Homo sapiens: one gene and its partners. Changing the gene in region 1 together with any one later gene gives a genetic interaction. Each region holds a gene or a part of one and is shown in the gene's direction. Other genes may lie near its edges.

What was found. A genetic interaction does not mean that the proteins touch.
Region 2: changes in MUS81 (region 1) and PCNX2 impair growth when combined (synthetic growth defect), as found in Homo sapiens cells (one large-scale study listed by BioGRID).
Region 3: changes in MUS81 (region 1) and TMEM209 impair growth when combined (synthetic growth defect), as found in Homo sapiens cells (one large-scale study listed by BioGRID).
Region 4: changes in MUS81 (region 1) and BRD10 impair growth when combined (synthetic growth defect), as found in Homo sapiens cells (one large-scale study listed by BioGRID).

The regions. Positions count from the first base shown.
Region 1 is NC_000011.10:65,862,818-65,866,939, forward strand, and holds the end of MUS81 (structure-specific endonuclease subunit MUS81), read left to right. Parts: intron 1-247; coding exon 248-388; intron 389-592; coding exon 593-685; intron 686-760; coding exon of another isoform or gene 761-782; coding exon 783-904; intron 905-983; coding exon of another isoform or gene 984-986; coding exon 987-1,084; intron 1,085-1,679; coding exon 1,680-1,796; intron 1,797-1,902; coding exon 1,903-1,998; intron 1,999-2,199; coding exon 2,200-2,328; exon of another isoform or gene 2,329-2,329; intron 2,330-2,402; coding exon 2,403-2,506; intron 2,507-2,993; coding exon 2,994-3,077; intron 3,078-3,168; coding exon 3,169-3,235; 3' UTR 3,236-3,622; downstream 3,623-4,122. Other genes in the region: EFEMP2 (EGF-containing fibulin-like extracellular matrix protein 2 precursor), read right to left, coding at 4,101-4,122. UniProt on the Homo sapiens protein: Catalytic subunit of two functionally distinct, structure-specific, heterodimeric DNA endonucleases MUS81-EME1 and MUS81-EME2 that are involved in the maintenance of genome stability.
Region 2 is NC_000001.11:233,260,092-233,265,603, reverse strand, and holds part of PCNX2 (pecanex-like protein 2), read left to right. Parts: intron 1-2,440; coding exon 2,441-2,646; intron 2,647-3,438; coding exon 3,439-3,559; intron 3,560-4,282; coding exon 4,283-4,319; intron 4,320-5,512. UniProt on the Homo sapiens protein: May play a role in tumorigenesis of colorectal carcinomas with high microsatellite instability (MSI-H).
Region 3 is NC_000007.14:130,180,273-130,185,784, reverse strand, and holds part of TMEM209 (transmembrane protein 209), read left to right. Parts: intron 1-417; coding exon 418-593; intron 594-1,529; coding exon 1,530-1,601; intron 1,602-4,065; coding exon 4,066-4,162; intron 4,163-5,512. UniProt on the Homo sapiens protein: Nuclear envelope protein which in association with NUP205, may be involved in nuclear transport of various nuclear proteins in addition to MYC.
Region 4 is NC_000009.12:5,917,388-5,922,360, reverse strand, and holds the end of BRD10 (uncharacterized bromodomain-containing protein 10), read left to right. Parts: coding exon 1-2,677; 3' UTR 2,678-3,339; downstream 3,340-4,973.

The DNA.
Region 1 (4,122 bases):
ACAGCATTAGTGAAGACAGGAGGAAGGAAATTGTCTGAGACACACTTCTTGCAGACCTGAGAATGGCGCTGAGCAGGCCCAAGGAACTGCTCTAAGAGCCAAGAAGACCAGGAGGAGCAGGAGCCACTGGGGTCATTTGTGCAGGGCGCCAAGGGGGTGGTGAGGCCAGCCCAGCTGGGGGCAGGCAGGAAAGCCTGCCAGGAATGAGTGAAGAAGGTAGAGCTGTGTTGTCCCCTCTGCCTCCCAGGTACTCATTGACCCCAGAGGGCCTGGAGCTGGCCCAGAAGTTGGCCGAGTCAGAAGGCCTGAGCTTGCTGAATGTGGGCATCGGGCCCAAGGAGCCCCCTGGGGAGGAGACAGCAGTGCCAGGAGCAGCTTCAGCAGAGCTGTGAGGAGGAGGGCAGAGGAGTGGGGAAAACAGGGAGGAGGGGATGGGAAATGAGGCCAAAGCCCCGCCCCAACCCATCACCTGCAGCTGAACTGTGGCTGCCTCCCTACTGTGGGTGGGTGGTGGGTGTCGGGTGGCATGGGTGTGGGGCAACTGCCCTGGCACAAGGGGTTCTGGCCTCACATACCAACACCCCCCACTTAGTGCCAGTGAAGCAGGGGTCCAGCAGCAGCCACTGGAGCTGAGGCCTGGAGAGTACAGGGTGCTGTTGTGTGTGGACATTGGCGAGACCCGGGGGTGAGTGAGGTGGGGAGAAACGAGGGAGATGATCAGAGGAGGCTGGGGGGTAGGCACTGCCCTGCTCTGATCTAGGCTTCCCTCCTTGCCACTCCAGGGGCGGGCACAGGCCGGAGCTGCTCCGAGAGCTACAGCGGCTGCACGTGACCCACACGGTGCGCAAGCTGCACGTTGGAGATTTTGTGTGGGTGGCCCAGGAGACCAATCCTAGAGACCCAGGTGAAGGGCCGTGGACAGGCTGGCACCAGGGGCAGGGCCTGGTGGGTAGGGGATCGCAAGCTAACGGCTGGCTTGTCAGCAGCAAACCCTGGGGAGTTGGTACTGGATCACATTGTGGAGCGCAAGCGACTGGATGACCTTTGCAGCAGCATCATCGACGGCCGCTTCCGGGAGCAGAAGGTAATTTTGCTGGCTTTGCCAGGCTTCCCTGCCTGCTCCGAAGCCCCGTTTTCAGCCCAGAGCAATCCAGGGGCACTTCTGGCAGCCTCCTTGAGGCAGAGCCCTTTGGAATCCAGCCACACCCACCCTGTGGCTGCTCCAGGATCAGACCCCCACAGGCCCATCCAGGCGCACAGTAGGAAGCCAGGTACCTGCATTCTTGGGCTGAGGTCAGGAGCATTTTAAAGACCTCTTGGGTACCCAGCCCCTGCAGTCTTGGATAAACAAGGCATAAACCTCCAGGAGTGGAAATACAGAGGCTGTACCTTGGTACTTGCTGCTGGGTGGACCCCTAGTCACAGAGGCCATGTGCCGGCCCAGGGGAGGCTTGAAGGATGGGCAGTGTTGAGAGATGGAGAAAAGGCTTTCTAGACAAGAGTGTCAGCATGAGCAAAGCTGCGGAGGCCCCTGTGAGGCAGGTGGAGAGGCTAGGGAGGATGCAGAGGCTAACTGGTGGGAACAGGGTCCCGGCACCATTTTGAGTGTGACATCATGGATGCCCAGGCATGTGGTCATCCAGCCTGACCCTCCCTGTCCACTCTGTACACTTCCCTAGTTCCGGCTGAAGCGCTGTGGTCTGGAGCGCCGGGTATACCTGGTGGAAGAGCATGGTTCCGTCCACAACCTCAGCCTTCCTGAGAGCACACTGCTGCAGGCTGTCACCAACACTCAGGTGAGCTGGGAGGGCAGGGCCAGGCAGGCAGGCAGGGGCCCCTGTGGTCCATGGTTCATGGTCTAGGCCAGGAGCCACCTTCCCTCTCTTGGGTCCTCTTCCCCAGGTCATTGATGGCTTTTTTGTGAAGCGCACAGCAGACATTAAGGAGTCAGCCGCCTACCTGGCCCTCTTGACGCGGGGCCTGCAGAGACTCTACCAGGTGAGCAGAGGCCCCTTTCCCAGTGTCGGGACAGAGCCCACAAGGAATTCACCTTGCCTGGGCCCTGTGCATCCCCAAAAGAAGCAAGGTGGGTGAGATCCCCATTTCTCAGGCTGGCCCCCCAAGGCTGAGGACTGGGCAGGGGCTGGCTGGAGTTGTTCCTTCGAGCTCCAGCCTGGCCTCAGTCCCTTCTTCCCTCAGGGCCACACCCTACGCAGCCGCCCCTGGGGAACCCCTGGGAACCCTGAATCAGGGGCCATGACCTCTCCAAACCCTCTCTGCTCACTCCTCACCTTCAGTGACTTCAACGCAGGAGCCATCAAGAATAAGGTACTGTCTCTGCCTAGCTTCTCAGACATGGCCTGGCCCAGACCCCCACTGATCCAGCCCTTTCCCGAACCCAGGCCCAGTCGGTGCGAGAAGTGTTTGCCCGGCAGCTGATGCAGGTGCGCGGAGTGAGTGGGGAGAAGGCAGCAGCCCTGGTGGATCGATACAGCACCCCTGCCAGGTAGGCCCTAAAGGGCCCTTAGGTGTCCTCAGCCCCTGCCCTCCATGCATGGAATTCACCTTAATCCATGCTTCGTGGAGGGGGCCTGGCCTTGTGTGGGCTCTGCAGACCAGAGATAGACAGATCCCAGGGTGCTCGTGGAGGTCAAGTGGGGAGGAAGCCAGCAGGCCCACATAGTGTCCCAGGTAGTGGAGGCCACAGGAGGGAGGGAGACGTCCCACCTGGTGGAGAAGAGGCTTCCTGGAGAAGGGGTTGGGCCATTAAGGGGAGTGAGGGTGAAGGTTTGGAGCCTTTGCTGGTTTTGCCCCAGAGTTCCCACAGGGAGGGAGGACAGCCCGGCTGGCATGGGGCCTTGAGTGCCAAGCTCAGGAAGTGGGGCAGTGTCCCAACTCTTCCATCCCATGCTGACCCCTCTGCCTGGCCCCTCATGGTGCTGGCCCAGAGTGGGCCACTGTCAGCCTCAGAAACTCAAACCCCTGCCCCCCAGCCTCCTGGCCGCCTATGATGCCTGTGCCACCCCCAAGGAACAAGAGACACTGCTGAGCACCATTAAGTGTGGGCGTCTACAGAGGTGAGGGCAAGAGACGGAACCTGGAGGGAGTGGCAGGGACTGGGGCTGCCCTAGGCCCAGGGCGTGACCCTCGCTGCCTCTCTTCCTGCAGGAATCTGGGGCCTGCTCTGAGCAGGACCTTATCCCAGCTCTACTGCAGCTACGGCCCCTTGACCTGAGCTTATGCCGTGAAACAGCCCCCAGCCCCCGTCTGTCCCCCAACCCAGGCTAGCCAGCCTTTTAACAACATCTTTTGGGGTACAATTAGAATCTAAGTGTTTGCAGCCATATGTGTCATGTAGAAGATGCCTAGCCCTGGGGACCTTGTGAAATACGCAGGAACCAGGGATACCATCTGGTCCAGTGGTTTTTAAACAAAGCTGCTTAGCACCTGGAATTCCCTGGTCAGGGAGATGGAGTCAGTGGGGCATTGCAGCTTGGAATCTATTTTATGTCACCAGTTGGTCCTCATCAAATAAAATTTCCTTAGGAGTGCAGAGGGCTCATTGGGAAAATAAAAATAATAAAAATAAATAAAACTTCCTAAAAGAAAAGATTGAAAACCACTAACAGTCCAGTTGCCTCGTTTTATAGAAAAACAGGCCCAGGGAACTACTAGGGCTTATCCAAATGTACAGTTTGAGGCAGAGTTAGGAATGGAACCCAGGGCCTCCTGGCGCTGTCCAGAGTGGAGTTTCTTAGGACCCCTGCAAGCCAGCCAAGTCCAAATCTCTGGGCCGGGGCCTGGAGTCCGCCCTCCTCGTTACCTCCTCTCCTCTCGGGGTGACTGAAGCTCGTGGTGCAGAGCTCCCAGCTCCTGTCAATGGGGGCCCCTGGGCCTGAACATATAGAGACCCCCATTTAGGTGAACTTGGCCTGCCCCCCCAAGTGCCACCCTGCCCCAGCCTGAGGCTTCCTGCAGTGTGACCCGCCCACCTCAGCCACCAGGACTTTCTTTCTCCCTTTATTGCCTTTCTCATTCTGCCCCTCACAACAGGCTCCTCAGCTAGGGTAGCTGCAGGGAGGGTGGCTCCCTCCTGCTCCTCAGAAGGTGTAGGCCCCTACA
Region 2 (5,512 bases), on another chromosome or scaffold:
AGGGGCCTTGCTCCGCAGAGTTACTCAGGTACCTAGTCTGAAAGAAACTGCATCATCTTATAGACATATCATCTGGAAAACATGTCTTCTGAGGTCACCAAGTAAAGAGGAAAAGAGTGGGATGCGGGAGGCACCTAGCTCATAATTGTCTAAGCCAGCACTTGTGCTCATTGTCCATTGGGCAAAAGTAGTCATATGGCCTCAGCCTCACTGCAAGAGAAGCTAGGAAATGAAGAGGAGAGGATGGAGTATTTAGTGATCACTAACTCTCTTTGCTACCCTTGCTGACTAGAGTACTATGAAACCCTAGTTACATGAAAATTCAACAATCTCTTGAATATAATTCCTTTTTTTTTTTTAGAGAGGGTCTCACTTGGTAGCACAGGCAGGAGGAGTACAGTGGCATGATTATAGCTCACTGTAAACTTGAACTCCTAGGCTCAAGAGGTCCTCCCACCTCAGCCTCCCCAGTAGCAAGGACTATAGGTGCATGCCACCACACCTGGCTAATTTTTAAATTTTGTAGAGATCGGAGGGGGGGTCTCACTATGTTGCCCAGGCTGCTCTTGAACTCTTGGGCTCAAGCAATCCTTCTGCCTTGGCCTCCCAAAGTGCTGAGATTACAGGCATGAGCCACTATGCCTGGCGGAATATCATTTTTATATAACAATAATCTGTTTTCACGGACATCTGCAGGTTTTCTTTTCCTTCTTACCCTCTTCAAATTAACTCTCTAGATTTAGCTTAAATTTTTGAAACCCAAAACTATTAGTAGTATTTAATTTAGTGGTATTTAAATTAGTAGTATTTTAACGTATTAGTAGTATTTAGGATGTAAATATAAGGTTTATATTTACAAATGCACCTTTTGTAAATATAAACCTTATCTGCTGCCAGGTAGTGGACCTGGCTTTATTATCTAGCTTGTATCATCTTATATAGTTATTCCGTCACTTATTTATTGCTTGCTTTATATTTATTTGTGGACTTTTCCCCCCATGACATAATAAGAGCGAGTTAAGTGATGGTGAAAATCTCTGACTTTATCTTTTACTTGTTGATCATCTTCCTCTTTCTTTTTTGTGCTCTGTTTGGCTATTCCATTTTAGGGACAGTCCAACTTGGAAGATAGACTCTTGCATGGGACCACGGCAAGCTGTACAGGGTCTGCTTAGGCATGGATATGGACTGGGCCCTGCTGTCTGCAAGCCTAGCTATGTTTAGGTTGAGGCACCAGCTACACGGATCACTGGATTTCTGATATTCTTTAGGGAAGTCCATTGATAAAATGGTCTTGCGAATCATTGAGGCTGTCCTGGATATCACCTTGGGACACTTGGGGATCTCTTTCCATCCCAAAGAATAGGAATGTAGTTTAGGAAGGACCAGAGAACGTGTGATAGTCCATGGTCCTGGAGAGAATTAGGAAGGTATATGGGAGATGCTACAGAGTGGGACAACTCCACGGGTCCCAGTGATTCTTTTCGTTTTGTTTCTTGAAGGGATTGCATAGAATTGAGCTGAACCTCACTATGGTCGCCATGCTCAGATCATTTGTCTCTGCTGGAAATATCCCTCTTCCTTTTGGAAGTAGTACCCTTTTGTGGTTCCCTGTGTGCAATACAACCCTAGGGAAATCCATGGCCTGCAGGCGTTATCGCAGTGGGAGGTTAGGGAGGGGAATGGGGGAGTGGTTACCCTAACCTTTCTCCCTTCTTTTTCCTTCTGTTCTCCACAAGGCTTTTTGTGTTTTGTTGTTGAAAACAAAATACATCTCTGGCCTTTAAGATGAGCTGCATAGGAAGATGCATTGGATTAGGCCATAGATAAGAGCTTATCAAACATGGAGGCCGGGTACAGTGGCTCACACCTTTAATCTCAGCACTTTGAGAGGTCGAAGTGGGCGGATCACCTGAGGTCAGGAGTTCGAGACCAGCCTGGCCAACATAATGAAATCCTGTCTCTATTAAAAATACAAAAATTAGCCGGGCATGGTGGTGAATGCCTGTAATCCCAGCTCCTCGGGAGGCTGAGGCAGGATAATTGTCTGAGCCCGGGAGGCGGAGGTTGCAGTGAGCCGAGATCTTGCCACTGCACTCAAGCCTGGGTGATACAGTGAGACACTGTCTCAAAAAAAAAAAAAAAAAAAAATGGAGAGGTTTCCTCGAATATATCTTTTGTTCTGTGGGGTTCCTGCCTGCAAATCAAATGTTGGTTATCAGTGCAACTACTACAGAACCTGAGAAACAAAAAAGACTTCAAAAAATAAAAAGCAGCTCTTTCTCCTCAAGTATTTTAACCAGGAAAACTTAAAAAATTAGTCTAATTTGAAATCTTGCCTAATTTATATTCAATAGATAGTCTAAAAATGCTTCCAGATTTAAAACAGAAAGAAAATCTTAAAAGCAAATGATTTTTCTCTGTCTTTTCCTTTCTTCAGGCTTTTCCTCCAAATGCGATCATTGTATTTTTCTACTGCAGTGCAGTGACTATATTCTTCACAATAATCAAACTGGTCAGTTATCGCCTACACCTCATGTTTGACAAAGGAGAAGTAATTCAGCAAAAGCCCTCCAGAAAGGAAGAAAAGCCAAATAAAGACAAGGAGGCCAAAGGTGAACACATAACTAATCACAGAAATCCAAGGTAATATTTTCAATTAATGTGACACTTCAAAATGTAAATGTTTTGCTCTTGATTAAAATAAGTTTTTTATCAGTGTTTATGAAATTACTAGTATAGGCAGACAGAAATATATGCATTTTTCTTATATTTCAGCATATACTTAAGCATAAAATTGATATTCATAATCAAGATGGTTTAACTGGCTTCCCAATAAATGTCTTTTTGGGAAGTCAATATGACCTTCTCATAAGATCTAGAATTCATTTGCCTTAGGCTTAGCACTGCAAAAAATTTCCCTTCACTGCTTTTAATGTTGTTATTTAAATGCTTAGAGCATGCCAGAGTATTTTAAAGAACAGCATTTGTGTTTGTTGATATAAAAGTAATACATTACATAGAACTGAAATATTAAGAGTAATTCTTGAGTTAGCATTCTTTTCACCATTCTTGTATTATTTCTTATAGCTCCTTAAGATAGCATGTCCTCTAATTTAAAAATAATGTTTATTATAAGATTTATCTGCTGCAGATGGTGGCTTATGCCTGTAAACCTTGCATTTTGGGAGGTTGAGGTGGGAGGATCACTTGAGTCCAGGAGCTTGAGGCTGCAGTGAGCCATGATCGTGCCACTGCATTCCAGTCTACCCAGACAGAGCGAAGCCCTGTCTCTTAACAACAACAAAAAAAGATTTATATGTAAGGAATATAACAAAATGGACTCTAGGAAAAAAAGTTTTTAGACTAGTACTAAAAGAGTCATGCTTCTGTTTGATAATATCGCTCACTGCTCTTGTGTTTCTCATGTTGGGTTAGCAATAATAGGCAGATTCACAATGGCAAAAAGGAAGAGGCCAGTCGAAACCTCTCCACGCCTCCCCTCCGCTGCAGCTCCAGAGGGCAAAGCATAACCTCTCATCACTCTTCTGGGCCATTGGTTAGTGGTCTTCTTTCCTGTTTCACCCTCTTCATGTGATTTCGATGTTGATCTCACCTAGAATGGGAGTGTTCAGCAGCAGTGATTGTAGCTTGCATGCTGTAATCACTGGCCCGTGTACAGTGGAATATCACATCCCAGGGTCTGGAAATGGCCTGAAGGGTGCCCTTGGGACCATAAAATAAATGCCCAGTCGTGTGTTCAAAGCACACTCTCTGGCCTTCCCTGCCGTCCACCTGCGCTGCTGGGTCAACCACACTGGGCAGAGAACCAATATGTAGGCCTTTGCTTCTTTCTGTTGTCATTCATTTAAGTCATCATATCTGCAGTGCCTTCCACCTGAAATGGATATCACCTCTGCTTTCCATTTTAAATCACACTTGTCTTTTTGGGAAGTCAATAAATCACCTTTTTTCTAGATTAACTTTGTTGAGCTCCATTCACTATAGTGTAAGTAGTGGCTTCTTCCTTCTTTGCTTACTTTCTTAGTAGCAAATCTCCCTTTGTCACAGTACAGTTGTCTCGGTTGAATGTCCACATTTACATATGTTTGTATCCATTCTGGGCCCCATTTTATAGAAGCTTAAGGAGAGTGAACACTGTATTGTCTCTCCCCTACATGCCATTTAGAAAATCAGTGACTGCTGTCAGTTATTGCCGACTGTCTGGAAATGGACGGTCAGCTGAGTCATCTATTGATTTTTGTTTCTTTCATTTGTGTAGGAGTTGTCAGCACAGGAAACTGTAGAAGATCTCAAAGGTAAACTGTTAATCATTTATATTTTATCACAGCACTATCCTCAGTGAAGTGAGAAATATTTTTATAAAACAGAATGCCAGTGGATTAATTGAAAATAAGAACTATACCTAAGACTGCATAGTTATATTTTGACTTTGTTTCTTTAACTCTTAATTTTAATTTTTTCTCATCGGTATTTGTATATCAAGTCTTAATTCAAATTGTGATATTTTGTTGATCATAATTCATTGTCATTTCTCCAGTCTATGCCTCATTTCATATGGCTTATAAAGAGCAGACATATAAGTTTTTTATTGATGATAAATTATCATCCATATAAAAATTTGTATTATAGCATATACATCAAAAAATGACAGGATAAATTGTACAGCATTCTGCATATCTGCCTTTCTTTCAAGTTACAGATTTTGTTTTGGGGGATCTTTCTTTTAACTTAAACAATTTTTGTTTTACATTTTTACTAACTTTTTTTTTTTTGTCTTTTGACTACCTGCAGAAGGCTTAGAAAAGATCTTTTGGAGGCCTGAATTAATTCCTTCCTTTCTCTGCAATTCTATTTTCTTTTCCACTACTACAAAGACAAATTTTGTGCACTATTTCAATTTTGAAAATAATGTAAAGTTTAATTCGCTCTAGAAAATAGCTGAAATTAGCACCATAGCCCTGAACCCCTAAAATGAAGTTTCTTTTTTCATCATTCAGTTGTATCCCATTATAACAATATGTAAAGGATTATCCATATTTTTTCTATATTATTGCTACTGAAATAAATTCACATGAGTTAGACTTCTAATATTTTAGTTGCACGTACAGCTTCATAACAACGTTACTTTATGTGTTTTATATACACATATACAAGCACATACCTTTTTCTTCATATGAAACATATTCTTCCAGATTAGGTGTGCTATAATAATCTTACATACTTTGAATATCTGGTCTGGCCTTTTAATTTCACCATTCCAATTAAAACAATAATTTTCTATTTTTTACTTGTACTAAGAATTGCAGTAGAAGTTTTACATACATTATTTCATTCTGAGTCATAGTATGTAAAATGTACAGGTAGCATTTAAACCCATACCTGGCTACTAAATCCAGTGTTTCTTAGCAACACTGCAGTAAAGCAAAGAATTCTGTTTTTTCCTTAGTCAAATCTTATAAAAGATACCATCCTAGTTGGTGGTGTTCTA
Region 3 (5,512 bases), on another chromosome or scaffold:
CTTTTAGTAGGAGGCTATAGTTATCCCTTTTAGAAAGAGCTTCTAGAAATTTCAAATAAAGAACTTGCTTGGCCTATTTATTTCCTAAAGAAATTTGTCTTTTGTTTGTTTCTTACTAAATGATTTAAAAGTCTTAGAGAATGAAACGAGCTTAACTTTTCAACAGAACTAGACAGATGCCTTTGACTGCTTATTGTTTTTATGACTGTTAAATTGATATGGCTCAGAAAATACTATTTAAAATTTTTAATCACAAGCAGACTGTGATCTCTAAAGAGAAAATTATGTTGGGGAGAAGAGAATCTCCTTGAGGGTTGGTCTTCTGATTCCTGGATTGCCATTGCCTAGATATAAGTGTTAACTGTAGATGTCAGAATTGCTACAACACACTGATACTGTTTATCTTAACAATTGTAGGGAGCCCAGATTCTACCTCTCCTTCCAGCAGTCCTACTTTCTGGAACTATAGTCGTTCTATGGGGGATTATGCACAAACTTTAAAGAAGTTTCAGTATCAGCTTGCCTGTAGGTCTCAGGCCCCATGTGCTAACAAAGATGAAGCCGATCTCAGCTCTAAACAAGCCGCAGAAGAGGTAAGTGGAAAATAAAAGTGACTTAATATTTATGATTTATGCATTGTTAGAAAGTCTTCTACTTCTGGAACATTTTTTCTGTAATCTTCCATTCTGTTGGACAGAAATGTAAATCTGGCACACATTAGGCAGTGGGAAAGCTCCTGTCTTACTTTGTGTGCCTAAAACTAAAAACTAAATTATATCATACATTTTACTCTGTGACACACAGTTCACCTTAGCGCCCTGCCTGAAACATATTTTTACATTGATTATAAAAAGGCTCTCAGGTATATAATTGTACTTAACACATACAGAAGTCTTGCTTTTAAAATATATTTGGATTAGAATATTTGTCAGTAATTTCGTCACTTTAATACCAAATATGGAATTTTTATTTTGTTCTTAAAAGCAAGAAAAATGGGCTGGGCACAGTGGCTCACGCCTGTAATCCCAGCACTTTGGGAGGCAGAGGCGGGTGGATCACGAGGTCAGGAGATTGAGACCATCTGGCCAACATGGTGAAACCCTGTCTCTACTAAAGTTACAAAAATTAGCCCAGCATGGTGGCGTGTGCCTGTGGTCCCAGCTACTCAGGAGGCTGAGGCGGGAGGATTGCTTGAACCTGGGAGGCAGAGGTTGCAGTGAGCTAAGATTGCGTCACTGTGTTCCAGCCTGGACAACAGAGAGAGACTCCATCTCAAAAAAAAAAAAAAAAGCAAGAAAAATGTTCTTTACACATACCAATGTAAGGAACTTTTAAAGATAAATCTGTGTGTGAACAGCATTTATAAGTGAGTAATAAGAAAATTACTGAATATTAATTAGATGAATATTGATGTTTGGGAAATTTTTTTTCAAAGTTCATTAAATATTTTTTAGGATGGGAGAAAGAATGATGATTTCTATCAAGATTTTTCCTCACTGATTGTTCATTTTAAACATGAATTTTTATAGGTCTGGGCAAGAGTGGCTATGAATAGACAACTTCTTGATCATATGGATTCATGGACAGCTAAATTTAGAAATGTAAGTTCTGACATTACTCTTTGGACAATATTAGTGCCTCTTAATATGCAAAGCATGTTATTAGAATATCATTTAGAGTTCATTATAAATTAGAATATTAGTTATAAAGGTACAGTATGAATGGTACATATATAAGGATAAACATGACTGTTACTATATGGTATTTATTTTCATGAGATTTTTTTCTTCCTCCATATTTAGTGAATTGTTATGTTTTGAGAAGATAAAGGAATAATATGTTTAGTTATTGAGATCCTCCCTTTTCAGTTCTCAGTTTTATTTTCCAAAGAGCTTTTCTATTGGAGCCTTTTATTTACCTAGAATTGTGAGGGGAAACAAAAATGAGGTCCTTGCCCTCAGAAAACTTAAAGAGTTAGAGAGATAAGACAACATATGCTTGAAGCTATTTCAAAGTAGATTATGATTTCTGTTTTTCTAGAGAAGAACCCTCTAATCTTGGGCCAACTTTTCCATATACAGAGTGAGTGAGTTCCCTATTTCCAACTCCACGTCTTCCTCCCACCTTCTCTAGTACCTGTGTGTTCTGGGTTCTGTTAGGCATATGGACTTCCCCTTCCACTATACGGAGCTCCACTTAGCTCTGAAGGGGCTACTACTTCTGTTGTTTCATCCTTCAACATTCATCCATCCACTCTGCATCTTCTAGAACTATTTTGAAATCACTTGTGCTCATTTTTTATCCTTTTACTCTTATTTAAATAGGGCATCAAAATAGAGGGGCAAAAAATGGTAGCCTACTTTATTGAAACAGAAACCTGGATGGCATTTTATGGATAATTCCTGAACCCAATCCTAGACTTACTCAATTAGAATTTATAAGGGTGGGGCCTAGACCTCTCTCTGGGACACGTTAGGTAATTTTGTTACAGCCAAAGAGTACAGCTGTACTCTTTTGTACCATTTGTCACAGCTGGCAAATTAAGATGCATGTAGTAAATGTTGGAAGGATGAATGAGTCAAATCATCTCCTGAAACTGGAGTTTGTTGTAGTTTCTGTTATAGGCTAGTCTAAAAATGCTAACATGTTTAAAATATGAAGTCTTAGTCAGACAGAGTATTAGCTACTTAGAAGAAATACAAATACATTTCCTCATCTGAAGTCCCTAGGTGACCATGTGCTATAAAATTTAGAGTTTTTGGATTTTTTTAAGCAATACATGTATACCTGTACCGTATAATTTATAACACCAGAGTCTAGTTAACACTCAGTAATCAACCACATTAATACTTCTGCAGAAAAACATATGAATAGTCACACTCAGTGGGATAAAGCCTATAAATAGCTTCATGTGAATTCAGTTCAAGTCTTGCCAGTATATCAAAATTTGCTTCCTTACATGGATTACAAGAAATCTTTTAAGTTCCCAGAAGGTTTTTGTTTCAGTTGTTTATAATATTGTATTTCATTGGAAACATTTTTTCATCCTTTTATTTTATGGATAAACAAAAGCATGGAAACAGAAGTGGTAATTGAAGTTGCTACAAACACATACACAAAATAATAACACACAAACCAGATGGGATGTATCCTTAGTCTTTTCACATCCCAGCATTAGTTTTATATTAGCCATGGAAAAGGCATTTGAAAGTCCCAGTCCTAAAGTAATATTGTAATATTCAAAAGCCAGTTTCAAATGTAATAAGTCTCTGTTTTTCCACATGGTTAGGGAATTGGGTGAGCCTGCTGAGAGTTAGGCAGTTATGTTAGTTTGAAAAACTATCTTACTGATTGCAAACCAATATAAACACTACATTAATAAATGTGTGAATAGTTACCCTACAAATGTAAACTGAAGATTATCCTTTTAGCTAAACATAATAATCAGAAAATTTTAAGAAAAATTTAACATATAGCTAAAAGTTTTATATTTTTTTTTCAGGAAAAAAAATAAAAACATGTTATTTAAGAATGTAATTTAGTTGCCAGGCGCAGTGGCTCACGCCTGTAATCTCAGCACTTTGGGAGGCTGAGGCAGGCGGATCACCTGAGGTCAGGAGTTCAAGACCAGCCTGGCCAACATGGTGAAACCCCGTCTCTACTAAAAATACAAAAAATTAACTGGGCGTGGTGGCAGGTGCCTGTAATCCCAGCTACTCAGGAGGCTGAGGCAGGAGAATCCTTTGAACTTGGGAAGTGGAGGTTGCAGTGAGCTGAGATTGCGCCATTGCACTCCAGCCTGGGCAACAAGAGCGAAACTCCATCTCGAAAAAAAAAAAGGAATGTAAGTTAGTTAATTTACACTCCAGTGGCATATTTATTTAACCATCTCTTGATTTCGGGTAGCTATTACTTTCATTCTCTTTCACTATACTTTATGATTCTTTTAATATTCAACTATAAGATAGTAAAAAAAATTCTTAGAGTTGCTTGTAAAAAAGAAAGTAATTATTTGACAGCTACTTGGGAATTATGTATCCAAAATCTGTACCTTATTTCTTCTAGTGGATCAATGAGACAATATTAGTGCCACTTGTTCAAGAGATTGAGTCTGTCAGCACACAGATGAGACGAATGGGTTGTCCAGAGCTACAGATAGGAGGTATGTGAAAACAGAGCCCAGTGTTGGATTTCTATTAGTAAATCTACCAAGTGGAAAACTTCTTGTAATGGACGGCTTAACTTATTTTGTTACCTTGGGGTGAAAAACCCCAAATGTCTATAATCTAGTTTGATTTTTTTTTAACGTGACAGCTTTATCAAGATGTAATTTAGCTACCATATAATTTACCCATTTAAAATGTACAGTCCAAAGTCTTGGGTTATGCAACCATCACCATAGTCAGTTTTAAAGCATTTCATCACCTGAAAAAGAAACTCTCCACCTTTTACCAGTCACCCCCTGTTCTATACATTTCTCCCAGTCCTTTGCAAGTGCCAGTCTATTTTCTGTCTCTATAGATAGGCCTGTTGTGGATATTTCATATGAATGGAATCACAGAATATGAACATGACTTTGTGACTGGCTTCTTTCACTGAGCATAATGCTTTCAAAGTTTGTCCATGTTGTAGAATTTATCATTACATCATTTTCTTTATTGCTGCATAATATTCAAAATAGATCTACTACACTTTGCTTATTCATTCATCAGTTGATTGACATTTAGGTGGTTTTCACTTTTTGGCTCTTATGAATAATGCTGCTGTGAACAGTCACGTACAAGTGTTTATATTGGACCTATGTTTTCATTTCTCCTGGGTATATACCTAGGGGTGGAATTGTTGAGCTGTATGGTAACTCTGACTAACCTTTTGAGGCACTGCCAGACTCTTCTAAAGCACCTAGCTGCACCATTTTACATTCCCACCAGCGTGTATGGGGTTCTGCTTTCTCCACATCCTTGCAACACTTGTCATATGTTTTATAGTCATCCTGCAGTAGGCGTGAAATGATGTCTCATTTTGGTTTTGATTTGCATTTCCATGATGACTACTGATGTTGAACATCTCATGTGTTTATCAGTCATTTGTATATCTTCTTAGAAATGTCTTTTTTGGCCGGGCGCGGTGGCTCACGCCTATAATCCCAGCACTTTGGGAGGCGGAGGTGGGCGGATCACCTGAGGTCAGGAGTTCAATACCAGCCTGGCCAACATGGTGAAAACCCCGTCTGTACTAAAAATACAAAATTAACCGAGCATGGTGGCAGGCGCCTATAATCCCAGCTACTCGGGAGGCTGAGGCAGGAGAATCGCTTGAACCCTGGAGGCGGAGGTTGCAGTGAGCCGAGATCGTCTGGGGGGCAAGAGCGAGACTTCGAGACTTTGAGACTTTGTCTCAAAAAAAAAAGAAATGTCTTTTTGATTCCTTTACCCATTTTTAAATTTGGTTATTTGTCTTTTTGTTGAGTGGTAGATGTTTTCTTTATATATTCTAGATATAAGCCCAAGAC
Region 4 (4,973 bases), on another chromosome or scaffold:
GAATGCAGTTTCAGCAGCCACATTCTCCTTGCCCAGTGCTTCACCGACCATTTCCTCCACAGGTCAGCCTCTGTCATCAACAACAACACTAAATGGGTCTACAAATCCTGGTAGTTCCTTCAACTGTTTTGCACAACAGACTGCTGATTCTTCTGAAGCAAAGCAAGAGCTGAAAACTGTGTGCATAAGAGATTCACAGTCAATTCTTGTTAGGACACGAGGTGGGAACACTGGAGTTGTAAAAGTACAGACCAACCCAGATCAAAATTCACCCAATACTGTATCTTCAAGTTCAGTTTTCACTTTTGCTCCTCAGCTGCAGGCATTTCTGGTGCCAAAATCAACAACTTCTTCCTCTGCTTTTTCACCTGTAGCTGGAACAACTACTACATCTAGTCTTTCACCTTTTAGCCAAACACCAACTTCTGTTTCCATTCCAGCTAGCTTTGCCCCATCCATGGGGAAAAATCTCAAACTTACATTAGGCCACACCACTGGCAGTGGTGATTTGGGCCACGTGATAGATAAAACTTCACACATGCCCTCTTCTCCCTTGAAGTCCTCTATTTGTTCTAGTACTCTACTACCATCAACAACAAGTAGTTCGGTAAGTGTAATTAGCATATCAGCAGCAAATTTTGGACAAAACAATGCAAATATTATTCATACTCCAACTAAACAGCAACAAGTAGATTATATCACAAAAAGTTACCCTGTTACAAGGTCAGAAGCAACAGCAGCAACAAATGGAGATGTAATCAGTGGGACTCCAGTTCAGAAACTTATGCTGGTATCAGCTCCATCTATTCTTTCTTCTGGCAATGGAACTGCAATTAATATGACACCTGCGCTGACATCTACAGGTGTTTCTGCCCAGAAATTAGTTTTTATTAATGCCCCAGTTCCTAGTGGTACATCAACCCCAACTCTTGTTGCAGAATCATTAAAACAAACTCTTCCTCCTCCATTGCATAAAGCATATGTTAAGACTCCAGAGCAACCCCAAATAGTACTGATTCCGTCTACAGTGGGCACACCAATAAAAATAAATTCATCACCAGCTGTGTCTCAGATAAAGGATGTGAAAATTGGACTAAACATAGGTCAAGCAATTGTAAATACTTCAGGCACTGTGCCAGCTATACCATCAATTAACATATTACAAAATGTAACCCCAAAAGGAGAAGACAAAAGTAGCAAGGGCTATATTTTGCCATTGTCAACAAGTGGTAATTCAGTTCCAGTAAGCTCAAATTTTGTGAGTCAGAATATTACCCCTGTTAATGAATCAGTGGTTTCTTCAGCAAGAGCAGTAAATGTGCTTTCAGTTACCGGAGCAAATTTATCTTTGGGTTCCTTTCCAGTGACCTCAGCCTCTGCTTCAGCTGGGGCACAACCTCCTGTTTTAGTCAGTGGAAATGATACCTCTTCAAGAATTATGCCTATTTTGTCAAATAGACTTTGCTCATCAAGTCTCGGAAACACTGTGGCTATATCAACTGTGAAAACAGGACACCTTGCATCATCTGTTCTGATTTCAACTACACAACCAGTAGTGTCTCCTAAATGTTTAACATCAGCTTTGCAAATTCCTGTTACGGTTGCCTTACCTACACCTGCGACTACATCCCCTAAAATAATAAACACAGTTCCACATTCGGCAGCAGTACCAGGAGCCACACGTTCTGTATCTATTTCTAAAAGACAATCTCGGACTTCACTCCAGTTCCATTCACCAGGGATTTCAACTACAGTGCCAACAAATGTAAACACAAATAAACCTCAAACTGAATTGTCGTCCCTTTCAACAAGTCCAGGTAAAATAACTAATACGTCCAATTTTGCTTCTCTGCCAAATCAGCAAGCTTTAGTAAAAACCCCCAGTTACAGTTCTGCTCCAGGTGGCACTACCATTCACACGGCTTCGGCACCATCCAATGTAACTAGTCTAGTCGGGAGTCAGTTCAGTGAACCTTGTATTCAGCAAAAAATAGTCATCAATACCAGTACACCTTTGGCACCTGGTACTCAGATTATGATTAACGGAACCCGGTTTATTGTTCCACCACAAGGTCTTGGAGCTGGCAGCCATGTTCTCCTTATATCTACTAATCCAAAATATGGAGCCCCCTTAGTTCTTAACAGTGGCCAAGGCATTCAATCTACACCAATAGATAACTCTGCCCAGAAGATCACACTAGCATCAAATAATTCCTTAAGTGGCCAACCTCTACAACATCCTCTAAGAAGCCCTACAAAATTTATAAACTCTTTTGGGAATGCAAGTTCTATACCCACAGTACATACATCACCACAACTCATAAACACAACTGCTAAGGTTCCTGTTCCACCTCCTGTACCAACAGTATCACTGACTTCAGTAATTAAGTCTCCAGCTACTCTTTTGGCTAAGACATCTTTGGTTTCTGCCATTTGCCCCAGTAATCCTCCACTGCCAAGTAGCACTTCAGTGTTTCATTTGGACCCACCTGTCAAAAAATTGTTGGTTAGCCCAGAAGGAGCCATTTTGAATACCATAAATACTCCAGCATCTAAGGTTTCTTCACTCTCTCCATCTCTCTCTCAGATTGTTGTATCTGCCAGTCGAAGTCCTGCGTCTGTCTTCCCTGCTTTTCAGTCGTCGGGCTTAGAGAAGCCTGACAGAGCTGCATCTTGAATTTAGACTAAAAGAGCCAGTTTTTAAATAATGGGGCATTGTTTTGACTCCCATAAAAATTTTCAATGTTTATTATACTGTTGAAAGCATACTATACATTGTGTGTGTGTGTGTGTGTGTGTGTGTGTGTGTGTGTGTGTTTTAATGTATCTTTTCATTAGCTTGCAACAAGGCTTTGTTTTCTTGGGGAGGGAAAGATCTGTTCCATTTCACTTACTGTTCTGAGGAGGGTTTCAAGGTTCTGTGTTTAAAGTCAGGATTTACCTGTCTGTAGAACATAAAGTGAACAAAGTTTGAATAGTTTAGAGTAAGCTAGCCTTTTGCACATTTACATTGACATGTTTCTTCTTGAATTTGGACTGTTGCAGCATATCTATGATATGGTATTCAGTGTCATTAGTGAAATCTTATTTTTGTTTCTGTAAAAAAAAAAATACATATATATATTTATGCATTGTGAAAAATGCAGTCCATGATGTAAAATTGTACATATTCCAGAATCCCTAACAACCTGTACTAAATATATGTACAAAGAACTATGCTGTCTTATTTATGTTTTGTTTACATAATGTATAGTTTTTTAAGTATTTTAGTAATTTTGGACCAGTGAACTGTTAGCAACAATGCAGAAGAATCTGCATGTAATAAACTGAGTTGCTGTATTTCTTTGTTTGAATACCATTTTTAACGTGTGTTCTTGTTCCATTGAAAGAATACAGGATGTAATTGAAGACAGTCCTTTACAAGAAAGAATTAAGGGTGGGAAATTTGAATTAGAGCTAGCACTTGTACATGGCTTTCCAGCTTACAAATACTACTTTCACTTAAATCTTGTGTTTCAGAAAATGCCTTTTTTTTTTTTTTTTTTGACTCACCTGTTGCCCAGGCTCGAGTGTAGTGGTGCAGTCTCAGCTCACTGCAACCTCCACCTCCTGAGCTCAAGCCATCCTCCCACCTCAGCCCCCCAAGTATTAGGTTGGTGTGTAAGTAATTGTGGTTTTTTTGCCACTAATGCCACTAATGGCAAAAAAAAAAAAAAAAGCCACTAACGGCAAAAAACCACAATTACTTTCTCACTAACCTAATAGCTGGGACTACGGGCATGGGCCACCATGCCTAATTTTTTAATTTTTTGTAGAGATGGTTTCACCATGTTGCTAGGCTGGTCTTGAACTCCTGGTCTCAAGAGATCCACCTACCTTGGCCTCCCAAAGTGCTGGTATTACAGGCATGAGCCACCGCACCCAAGAATATGCCTCGTTTTAAATAAAAGGTAGCTTTTATATTTATTGGATCTTTATATCCATTATCTTGAGCTACTGAACTGTATACTCATCCTTCCATTTATAATGTTGTTAAACTTCATCACATGAAGTTATTGTTGGGGGTTGGAAATGATATGGAAGCATAGGCCTAAAGATTTCCTTTGAGACTACATCAAAGTGTATTTGTTATCAAAGTGGAGAGGGTAGTGAAAATATTCCTAGAAAGTCACTAAAGGCTCTCAGAAACCGCTATTTATGCTCTAAGTACTTTTCCTAGTCATGTTTATGCTCTACTCAAGTCACTCTCCCCGTTTTTCTGTCAGTTAAGAAAGCCCTGGGGAAGTGGGTGATATTTCAAGTGCATTGCATTGCGCATTGATGGTGCTCAACAAATGGCTGTATTTACCTACTCAGCTTTTAAAACAAAATGACCCAAAACTGTTTGCCTTTTGTCTCAGAAGAATTCTCTTAAGCCATTTTAAGAAACTAATTTACTGAATTACCTATGGCCCAACTTTAATCCCAGTGAAGGACCTAAACTAACCACTAAATCTCTCTCTTTTTTTTGAGACGGGGTCTTCTCTGTTGTCCAGGCTGGAGTGCCATGGTGCTATCTCAGCTCACTGCAACCTCTGCCTCCTGGATTCAAGCAATTCTCCCACCTCAGCCTCCTGAGTAGCTGGGATTACAGGTGTGCACCACCATAGCCCAGATAATTTTTGTATTTTTAGTAGAGATGGGGTTTCACCATATTGGTCAGGCTGGTCTCGAACTCCTGACCTCAGGTGATCCGCCCACCTCAGGTGATCTGCCCACCTTGGCCTCCCAAAGTGCTGGGATTATAGGTGTGAGCCACTGCACCCAGCCACTAAATCTCTTCTAACTCCTAAATCCAAAATTCTAATATGACCTTCATAGCTCTGTGTGATCTGGTGAACCTTCGTACTGAAGTCCCCACTTAAAGTTTTAAAAGCTCTTCAGTCTGTTCCTGCCTACCTCTCCAGCTTCATTTCAACCTGTTCTCCCTCTTG